2 separate regions of the Homo sapiens genome follow, and region 1 is linked to region 2. Evidence: fine-mapped expression QTL. A gene starts in region 2. The other region holds a variant in brackets. All regions are shown on one strand. Distances are between the middles of the regions.

Region 1 (5,382 bases), 88 kb after region 2:
TTCAGTAGGCCAGGGGTGGCGCTTGAGACTCTGCGTCTCTAACCAGCTCCACGGGGGATGCAGATACTCCCGGGATGCAGATGCAGATGCTGCAGTGCGTAGAACATGCTTTGAGTACCAAGGACTTAGCTTTTCTGGGCTTTAGTTGCCTTACATGTAAAATGTGGGTATCAGTGCCTTCATCATAAGAGCATAGAGAGAATTAAATAAGAATGTAAAGAACTTGGCCAGGTGCAGTGGCTCAAGCCTGTAATCGCAGCAGTTCCGGAGGCCGAGGAGGGCGGATCACCTGAAGTTGGGAGTTCAAGAGCAGCCTGACCAACATGGTGAAACCCCATTTCTTCTAAAAAATATAAAATTAGCTGGGCATGGTGGCACATGCCTGTAATCCCAGCTACTTGGGGAGGCTGAGGCAGGAAAATCTCTTGAACCTGGGAGGCGGAGGTTGCGGTGAGCTGAGATCACACCATTGCACTCCAGCCTGGGCAACAAGAACAAAAGTCCGTCTCAAAAAAAAAAAAAAAAAAAAGAATGTAAAGAACTTTTAAGAGCTCTTGACACGGTGTAAGCACTCAAAAAATGCTGACTATTCTTTCTGAAGAATGGAAACAGTGAAGGTGCCATCATGAAGACTGAGGGTACAAATGCCAGGTGCTCTGTGTGGGGCCTGATGCATAAAGAGCTCTGGGTGAGGACTTCCTATGTACCCAGCACTTGATACTCTTTCTCATTCAATCCCTCCTAACTCTCTGAGACAGATACTATCATCCTTTACTTTTGATAAATGTGGAAACCAAAACTTAGGTTTAAAAAAACTGTCCAAGACCACAAGTTTACCAAGCAGCAGAGCTGGGGTTTAAACCTAGGTCTTGTGGCAGCAAAACTTGTGAATGTAGTTATTAACCGGCCCTCCAATAATAATTGTTACTGTTATTATCTTATTAAGTCCTCATGACAAAAGTGGATTTTTATGCCCATTTTACAGGAGAGGAAACTGAGTTGTAGGGACTATAGTAACTTGTCTAAAGTCGCTTGCACAATCTTCATCCCTTTCTCATATACAAGGTTGACAGGGAGGTGGTGACATCTTTTGAGGTGGCCTGAGGGTGGCACATGGGCCAGAATTTGGGTTCTACCCTCCCTGTTATAGACCCGTGTTTTTCATGAAGGCTCCTGACAACAGCTGAACAGGCATCCATTGTCCTCCTCACTCCACAGGGATGGTTGAGAGAAGCCCTCCTTTCTCCACTGAGGAACTTTGTGCCAAGTCACCTGCACGTCTACCCTACCTACCCCTGACCTGAACTCAGCAGGACAGCACAAAGAAAGCATGAAGAACTTTGCTGCACTGCTTTTGGAAAATATGCTAACCCCTAGCATAACCAATCCATCTTAAGAATGAAACAGCAGCGATTGATGGAAAAGAGTTGTACAATTCCGGGGCGCTCAAAGTGATGGAAGAAGCTATTGAGGATGATGTAAGTGTCAGGTTAGTTTTTCTAGGACTTAGACTCTGAGAGGGAGATGTACATGCAGGAGGTTTACTAGGGAGACTTTAGAGTCCTTACCTGTTGGGGATAAAGGCAGAGTTGAACTGAAATACCGGGCCTCAGCCTATCCCACAGGGATAGCTCTGGAGCTGGAGTGGCCCAAGGGAAGGCCTTCCTTGACTAGTCACTGGATGCAGGCTGTCCCTGAGGAGGGTGAGACCTTGGGTGGGGAGCATCTCTCCAGCTGAGTGCAATGCCTGGCCACTCAGCAGCGAGTCATGACCCACCAACCTTCCTAACATCTGGGGGCATGAGTGTTTCCACTCTGAAGTGGGGAGCTGGGACTCTGAAGTGGGGAGCTGGGACTCTGAAGTGGGGAACTGGGACTACAGCATCCACAACAGCACATCAGATGGATTATCAAGGTGTTGAACTTGGCAGCTTTGTACGGAAACTATAAATCTTGTTTTAAGAATAAAATACCCTACTGGCAAATCCAAAGATTGTTTGGGGAACAGTAATGATTTTCCTAATGATAGCAACTAGTCAAGGAGGCCCCATAGTCCTGTCCAACCCTAAAAGTTTTCTAACTCAATTATTGGTTGAGAATGGAAAATAACACAAAAGCACCAAGGAGGTATTGTGGATGAATTTTTTAGCACAAAGTGTTTCATCCATTTCTGCCTATTTTGGATTTCCTATTTCCAACCTGTACCAAATGTGCTTGCGTACACATACACACGACTAACCTTAAATATGGCTTCCTTTTAGAGACATAAAAAGCTCATGAATCAACTCCAAAAACATTTGCCCAGACTTTCTTTGAAAGGTGCAGATGAATGAGCTTGACAGAAAACTTTTTGCTTGAAATTTTCCCTTTCTCAGATTGCATA[A/C]ATTTAAGGGGAAAGGCTGCCAAATGTTCAATGACGCTCAGCGTGGTGGCTTCTGGCAGGGACACTCTGTACCAGCAGCTAAATGAATGTTTCCCTGAATCACTGACTGACTTATCATCCTTTATCACCTGCTCTGTTCCCCTTTTTCTGCATTGAGGCTTTCTAAATGACGTGGGGAGGGGAAGTAAAAAAAAACTTTAGAACCACAAGACACTGCATATTGATGTTGGATATTGAGAATTCTTCTGGTGTTAATAGATAGGATTGCAGTGAGGAGCACGAGGCTATCAAAAGCTATCTTCAAGCCTAATGTGGGCAAGACCCGTCAAGCCCCAGTGCTACAGAGGATCTGGACATTTTGGGCTGTAGCTTTGTATTAGGAAACTTCTTGTTTGTGTTAGGATTTACCAATGAATTGGGTCATATAATTCCCTTTTTGAAACCCTTAAAATGAACTCAAACCCCCTAGCCTGGCCTATTAATAATAGGTTCTACTGAGCCTGCCTTCCTCCGCCACCTGCCTTCCAACCTCATCCTAAACTGTGCTCACCCTCACTCCCTGTGCCTCAGCCATACCAACAAAATCCTTCAGGCTCCTCCAACACGACAAGACAAGGCCTTTCCAGAGTCACAGCCTTCAGCCCTGCTGCCTGGAATGCTTTTCTCGCAGCATTTCCATGGCCAGTGCCTCCAGGTCGGCTTAAATGTTACCTCTTTAGAGAGGCCTTCCCTGACTATGATCCTCCACTTTTATTCTCTATTCTCATAGAGTACTTTTGGTTTTCTTCACTGTACTTACCTATGAGAATTTGTGGCCATTATTTGCTTGTTTATTTCTTATCTCTTTTCCATGCTAGACTCCACTCCCTGAAATGGCAGGGACAAAAGCTACCTTGTTCACCACTGAAAACCCAGTGTCAGGCACACAGTTTGTTACTTGAATGAACAGTGTTTCACCCAGAGCCTAAGTCCTGTGCTCTCTCATTTAAAAAGGAACACTTATTTATAGATTTTTAAATGAAGGCTTTGAAAATATGGAAATATCTCACAGACATGAGATGGGAGACGTACGTTTTTAGTATGAGGACATTCTAAACCCCCATCACAACTAATGGCTCCTTCTTCTCTGTCCTCAGGGAGAACAGCTTTTGTTTTAGTTGAGGTATAACTTACTGTAGTATATGGCACACATTTTAACTGAATTTTACATGGGTATACATCCATATGGAGATCAGGATCGAGATGTAGAATATTGATGGCACATTGGAAGGCTTCCACATGAGAGGGTTCCTCTCAGGCAGTACCATTCAAAAGGTAGCCACTGTACTGTGACAGGTCCCCCAACAGGTTACCGAAGGGTATAAGTCTGTTGCCTGAACTCTGAGGGCCGGACAGTGAGCCAAGACCCTGGTGCCGAGCTGAGGAGCAGGTGTCCCTGAGAAGCCAAACCTCCCAGAGAGTTTCTGAGGAACTACCAAGAAAAACAGTCTCATTGTTCAAACACGTAGGCAAAGAGCCAGGAAATTAGCTTAAAAGCAGTTTATGGATGGGAGGTGGGGCAGATCTCCAGAGCTATCCTGCCGCCATCCCAGAGTGCCCCGTATGTAAGTCCTAATAAACTCATCTACTCCTCATGCTGGACTTAGGTCTGAGTCCTTCTTTGGACTCTTAGCACTTTTTTTAGTTTGGGGGTGGTGTTGGGGGACCTTACAGTCCTAAGTGTTTTCATAATAGCCACTATTATTTCTATTTATATAGGCCAGTTTTGACTTTCTTAGCTTGCTAAAAGGAGTCATATACTATGTATTTTTTTCATGTCTAGTTTTTCTTTTTTGCTCAAAATATGATTTTGCGATCTATTCATGTTCATATATGTACCACTAGTTTATGTGTCTTATTGCTTTGTGACATTCCTTTGTGTGAGGATAGCACAGTTTATTCTATAGTTGAAGGACATTTGGGCTGTATCCAGTTAATGGCTATGATGAACAACTTTGCTAGGGACATTATTGTACAAGTATTTTGATAGATGTGTGCACTTGTATCTGCTAGGTGCATGCCCTGGAGTGAATTGCTCCCAGAGGCATGTTAGCTTTAGCAGATATTACCAAACAGTGCTGTGAAGTGAGCACCAGTTGACACTCCACCAGTGGTGCATGACAGTTCCCCTTCCTTCATATCCTTACCAGAACTTTTTATTTCTCCAGACTTAATTTTAGTCATTCTGATAGATCTGTGTAGTAGCTCTGAGATTATCATTTGCTTTTGTCAGATAAGCAATAAAATTGAGCATCTTTTGAATGCTAATGGGTCATCTGGGTATTTTGTGTATGTCTGTGTGTATGTGAATTGCCTGTATGAAGTGCCTTTGAAATTTTTTGATGATCAAAGAAATGGATTGTCTGTTTTCCTTATTTGTAGGGTTTTCTTTTTACATTTTGGATATAATTTATTTTACAACTACATGTGTCTCAAATATCCTTTTCCAGTCTGATGCTGTCCCTTTTCATTCTCCTAATACCCATCTGATGAACAGAAGCTCTTCATTTTAATGGCATTTAATGTATTAATCATTTAGATTATGATAGTGCTTTTCTCCTGAATAATAATTTTTTTGCTAACTCAGGTCTCTTATAGTGCTTTTAACAAGAGAATAGAGTGGGAAGACATTAAAAGAGGTTTTTAGTACACTTGAAATGGCTTTTAGGACCAAGATGTTGAAACATGGCAATAAAACAGGGAGCTCTCCCAGTTCCTCTTATCAGAGGCCAACCCTGCCCTCCAGGCCCTGCTCAAATTCCCCTTCCCCCAAGAGAGGGCTGCCAACCAGCTTCCCCCACTTTCAGGAAGAGCCTAGGTATATGGGTTAACCCCATACGTTGGGGACTTCTTAGAAAAACTCTAGGTTGAAATGCAGTCCCCCACAATTACCCCTCAAGAATATTCAACTCAGGTCGACAACACAGAAATTAAACCACATGGACAAAGAGTCATTCACC
Region 2 (5,382 bases):
TTTTATTATCATTAAAGTTCTACAATGAAACTATAGTGAACTTTGTGGCCGGCTTCCCAGCACCCATTCCAACTCATTTCCATTGAGAAAAAAAGTAAAGTTTGGGTGAGACCTCAGTTTAAGATGTGGACTGCATTGGTCTACAGGTAACCATATCCTTTGCTGGCTTAGATTTGGATATGTGACACAATTCTGTCCAAAGTGATTAAAGGAGACAGTTGCTGAAGACTTCTAAGAGACAGAAGAAATCTAGACGTCATTTCTATCACCCAGTGGAAGTGAAAAATGAATTACATGGTTCCTGTTGCTGCTGGTAGTTATATTTACCACTAAAGGAACCAGAAGTCTACTCTGTTAAAAGCCAAGTGTAAAGCTGCAAAGAACTGAGTACATTATGAAATCGTTGAGTTGCTAACTCAACCAGTCCTGAAGTCTGCCTTACCTCTGGACTTCTTGTTCCACAAGACGATAAATATCCTTACTATAACAGGATTTTGGTTGTGGTTGAAATGGTAAATATATAGAGGATAACAAAAGTTTAGGGCCAAAGGTCCTTATGTGTCATTTTGTCCCTCTGTTCCTGACCACTTTATCTTACAGAGCAAGAGCCCAGGTGGCATGAGACTCCCTAATTTAACCCAGCCACACAGGCAGTAGCAGTGGATAAAGAGAGTCCTCTCCTGATGCCCATCCAGCTGCTATCTTCACCACACATCTGACCTAGATGGCATTCAGTTTTGTCCACCCTTTAAGCATACATATGCACCTACTGAATGAACAAACAGGATATGCACAATACCCCCAAATGCCACAAAATTTAAGTTCTGCTAATCTTAAATGTTATGTCATTGGACATTACCTAAATTCCCCCAAAACTTGGCCTTACCCTGACTATTGTTCAAATTGGGGTACTTTTTTGGTCATAATGATAATAATCCCCAAAACAACATGTGTCAGATACTGTGCTGAATACTCTACTCGCTTTCCTCATTCATTTGATAGTAAGAGGTTGGTATTGTAACAAGACGCGTTTTGCAGATGAGGAAATGAAAGCTCAAATAGGTTGAGACACTGGCCCATGATTGCTCTGCTGGTGAGTGACAGAGTGAGTATTCAAACCAGGTTCTAGGGTCTGCAGGTTCTAGGGATTCAGCTACAGACCCACTACCATCCCCTCCAGCTCTGAAAGCCCATGGATCTAAGATGCCCATATTCACCAATGCACAGGCCAACCTGAGACTTAAAACTGGAATTAATTTATCAAGGCACAAACTAATAATCAACGGAATACATCTATTGCCAAATCATCTCCATGGCTGCTTCCAGATTGTTGGTAATAGCTATACTGTAAGGTTCAGACCAAGGGGACCAACGTCAGAATTTGTTATCTAAGGTCCAGTACTGCAGTTTACTAATCCAGGTACTGGATTTACAGCTATTAAATACTTAACACTTGAGGATATCACATGTGATTAATATTCTTAATTTATTTGTACTTTTTATTTGAGCTGGAGATACAGTAGTGAACAAGAAAGAAAATACCTTCTGGAGCCTGCATTTTAACAAGCGGGACAATTAAATTCAATAGTGATTTAGCAAGTACTTCTATACCAAGTTCTGTTTGGCACTACAGATAAAAAGAAAAAAGATGCTATCCTCTCACTGCCAAGTGTGCCTGGACAACCCAACTGTTAGCGAATAATTCTACTTCTGTTTGGTAACTGCTCTTTATGTTGGAAAGTTTAGTTACATTATTCTATTAAATAACCTTCCAATTAAAAGCAGGAGCACAATCCCACATACGCGTCTGTCAAAGTAAGCACCCATTTCTCAGCTGTAACTCATTACTGGTTCCCTGCCGCAGGCACTGTGCTGCTTTTAACCTTACTTGTAAACTATTACCTAACTTCCCCGGTAAAGGTGCTCGCTTATCCAGTAAGACGGACAGACGTCTATGGTAGATCCACGTTTCATTTATCCCAACTCACTGGAACTGGCTGAAGCTTCTCCAGACTTGTGCCGGACCTTGGTGCAGCCAAAGTTGCTTTCTCCGCGGCCACCTAAGCTGCCAGGTGCACATTAACTAAGTGGCAGAAGGCCATCGGCTTGGCAATTGCCTGAGGCCTTTCCGGGACTCGCTGGTTTTTAGGTTCCATGAAGGGCATCCAGATCTAGGATGATACGAAAAGTGCGTGGTGGGAGAGTGGAATCAACCTCTACTCTTAGGTCCGATACAACCCCTCCAAGCACCTGTCTAACCAATCGGAAAGAAAGTTACATTCAACGCTGGTTCTAGCATCCAATCCAAGGACGTGTTTCAGACTCTGCTGCCCGGTCCCAGCCAGCCCTGAGCTGGCGCCTTAGACGCTCGCCTGGCAGCTGCGCACACTCGGAGCGCCCCGAGCGGCGCAGATAGGGACGTTGGGGCTGTGCCCCGCGGCGCGGCGCCTGCCACTGCGCAGGCGCCTCAGGAAGAGCTCGGCATCGCCCCTCTTCCTCCAGGTCCCCCTTCCCCGCAACTTCCCACGAGTGCCAGGTGCCGCGAGCGCCGAGTTCCGCGCATTGGAAAGAAGCGACCGCGGCGGCTGGTGAGTACGCGCCTCGCGCGCTCGGCGTTCTGGGGGGCAATGTCACCCCCTCTCCAGTCCCCTAGGGGCTTTGAAAATAGAGATGGTGAGACCAGACCCTATGACCCACTCTCCCCCACTACACGCACATCCCCTGGGGCGCGGCGGGGACGTCCACGAAGGGACTCAAAGAGCCAGGGAGGTGGCGGGCCGAGGCGGAGGCCAGGAAGGGAAGAGGAAAGAAAAATTAGCAGGTGCTGGGGAAGGCAACCTGTGGTGTTAAGTGTGAAGGGAGGGAAGTCAGCCGAACGGTAGTGGAGGAACCTAAGGTGGGTCTGGGGTAAAATTGAGGGGAGCTGGGGCGGGGTCGCCAGGCTTTTGGTTTTAAAGGAGAACCACCCATGGCATCGACATCCGTCTGTCTGAATATTAGATTAGAGTTTATGTTAATTATAGATAATGATATTTAAGAACTAATTTCCTGGAAAACAAGCCAACCAAACAATAAAAGGTACATTTAAGTGCCTTTTTAAAGGGCTGGATTAAAAGCACGTAAGGACTTAAAAACAATGCTTCCTTTTCTTGTCACAACCACCCTATGAGATCATAGCATTCCCATTTTACAGATGACGAAAGTCAGGCTCAGAGAAGTGAAGGGACGCGTCCAACCAAGATTGTACAACTAGTGACAGGCAGATTCAGGTTTACACCAGATCTGACTCCAGAAGGGCTTTGCTTAATCAGGCAATCTTGTGGACCCAAGTCTGAAGGAAGATTTGCCAACTACTGTGAAATATCAACTGCTGGTTTCAGTATTATGAGCTTCTATTTCTTCTTTTTTCCCCTCAGAGATTGTTTCAATCTGTTTTAAGGAAATTAAGAGGCCTGCTGCACTTGTGCGTCTTCCCCCCACCTCCACTTAAATTAGTTACAGGATATAATTTGGAAGACATTTTTTTTTATGGTCTCAGGTCTTAGATTTATTTATTTATTAATTATTATTATTATACCTTAAGTTTTAGGGTACATGTGCACAATGTGCAGGTTAGTTACATATGTATATATGTGCCATGCTGGTGCGCTGCACCCACTAACCCATCATCTAGCATTAGGTATATCTCCCAATGCCATCCCTCCCCCTTCCCCCCACCCCACAACAGTCCCCAGAGTGTGATGTTCCCCTTCCTGTGTCCATGTGTTCTCATTGTTCAATTCCCACCTATGAGTGAGAATATGCAGTGTTTGGTTTTTTGTTCTTGCGATAGTTTACTGAGAATGGATTTCCAATTTCATCCATGTCCCTACAAAGGACATGAACTCATCATTTTTTATGGCTGCATAGTATTCCATGGTGTATATGTGCCACATTTTCTTAATCCAGTCTATCATTGTTGGACATTTGGCTTGGTTCCAAGTCTTTGCTATTGTGAATAATGCTGCAATGAACATATGTGTGCATGTGTCTTTATAGCAGCATGATTTATAGTCCTTTGGGTATATACCCAGTAATGGGATGGCTGGGTCAAATGGTATTTCTAGTTCTAGATCCCTGAGGAATCGCCACACTGACTTCCACAATGGTTGAACTAGTTTACAGTCCCACCAACAGTGTAAAAGTGTTCCTATTTCTCCACATCCTCTCCAGCACCTGTTGTGTCCTGACTTTTTAATGATTGCCATTCTAACTGGTGTGAGATGATATCTCATTGTGGTTTTGATTTGCACTTCTCTGATGGCCAGTGATGGTGAGCATTTTTTCATGTGTTTTTTGGCTGCATAAATGTCTTCTTTTGAGAAGTGTCTGTTCATGTCCTTCGCCCACTTTTTGATGGGGTTGTTTTTTTCTTGTAAATTTGTTTGAATTCATTGTAGATTCTGGATATTAGCCCTTTTTCAGATGAGTAGATTGTGAAAATTTTCTCCCATTTTGTAGGTTGCCTGTTCACTCTGATGGTAGTTTCTTTTGCTGTGCAGAAGCTCTTTAGTTTAATTAGATCCCATTTGTCAATTTTGGCTTTTGTTGCCGTTGCTTTTGGTGTTTTAGACATGAAGTCCTTGCCCATGCCTATGTCCTGAATGGTAATGCCTAGGTTTTCTTCTAGGGTTTTTATGGTTTTAGGTCTAACGTTTAAGTCTTTAATCCATCTTGAATTGATTGTTGTATAAGGTGTAAGGAAGGGATCCAGTTTCAGCTTTCTACATATGGCTAGCCAGTTTTCCCAGCACCATTTATGAAATAGGGAATACTTTCCCCATTGCTTGTTTTTCTCAGGTTTATCAAAGATTAGATAGTTGTAGATATGCGGCGTTATTTCTGAGGGCTCTGTTCTGTTCCATTGATCTATATCTCTGTTTTGGTACCAGTACCATGCTGTTTTGGTTACTGTGGACTTGTAGTATCGTTTGAAGTCAGGTAGTGTGATGCCTCCAGCTTTGTTCTTTTGGCTAAGGATTGACTTGGCGATGCGGGCTCTTTTTTGGTTCCATATGAACTTTAAAGTAGTTTTTTCCAATTCTGTGAAGAAAGTCATTGGTAGCTTGATGGGGATGGCATTGAATCTATAAATACCTTGGGCATTATGGCCATTTTCACGATATTGATTCTTCCTACCCATGAGCATGGAATGTTCTTCCATTTGTTTGTATCCTCTTTTATTTCCTTGAGCAGTGGTTTGTAGTTCTCCTTGAAGAGGTCCTTCACATCCCTTGTAAGTTGGATTCCTAGGTATTTTATTCTCTTTGAAGCAATTGTGAATGGGAGTTCACTCATGATTTGGCTGTTTGTCTGTTGTTGATGTATAAGAATGCTTGTGAT

The links. PIP is the estimated chance that this variant, and not a neighbour inherited with it, causes the effect.
Region 1: its variant is fine-mapped to the expression of ENPP4 in fibroblasts (GTEx, PIP 0.97).

Annotation. Positions count from the first base shown.
Region 1 is chr6:46,215,364-46,220,745 of GRCh38, forward strand. LOC105375079 (a long non-coding RNA gene) reads left to right here and starts at 3,942. Exons shown (of 5, transcript XR_001743802.3): 1 at 3,942-3,987. RCAN2 (regulator of calcineurin 2) reads right to left here. Exons shown (of 5, transcript NM_001251974.2): 5 at 5,373-5,382. The variant A/C (reference allele first, on the strand shown) is at 2,384.
Region 2 is chr6:46,127,602-46,132,983 of GRCh38, forward strand. ENPP4 (ectonucleotide pyrophosphatase/phosphodiesterase 4) reads left to right here and starts at 2,388. Exons shown (of 4, transcript NM_014936.5): 1 at 2,388-2,588. It also overlaps a transcript of CLIC5 not described here.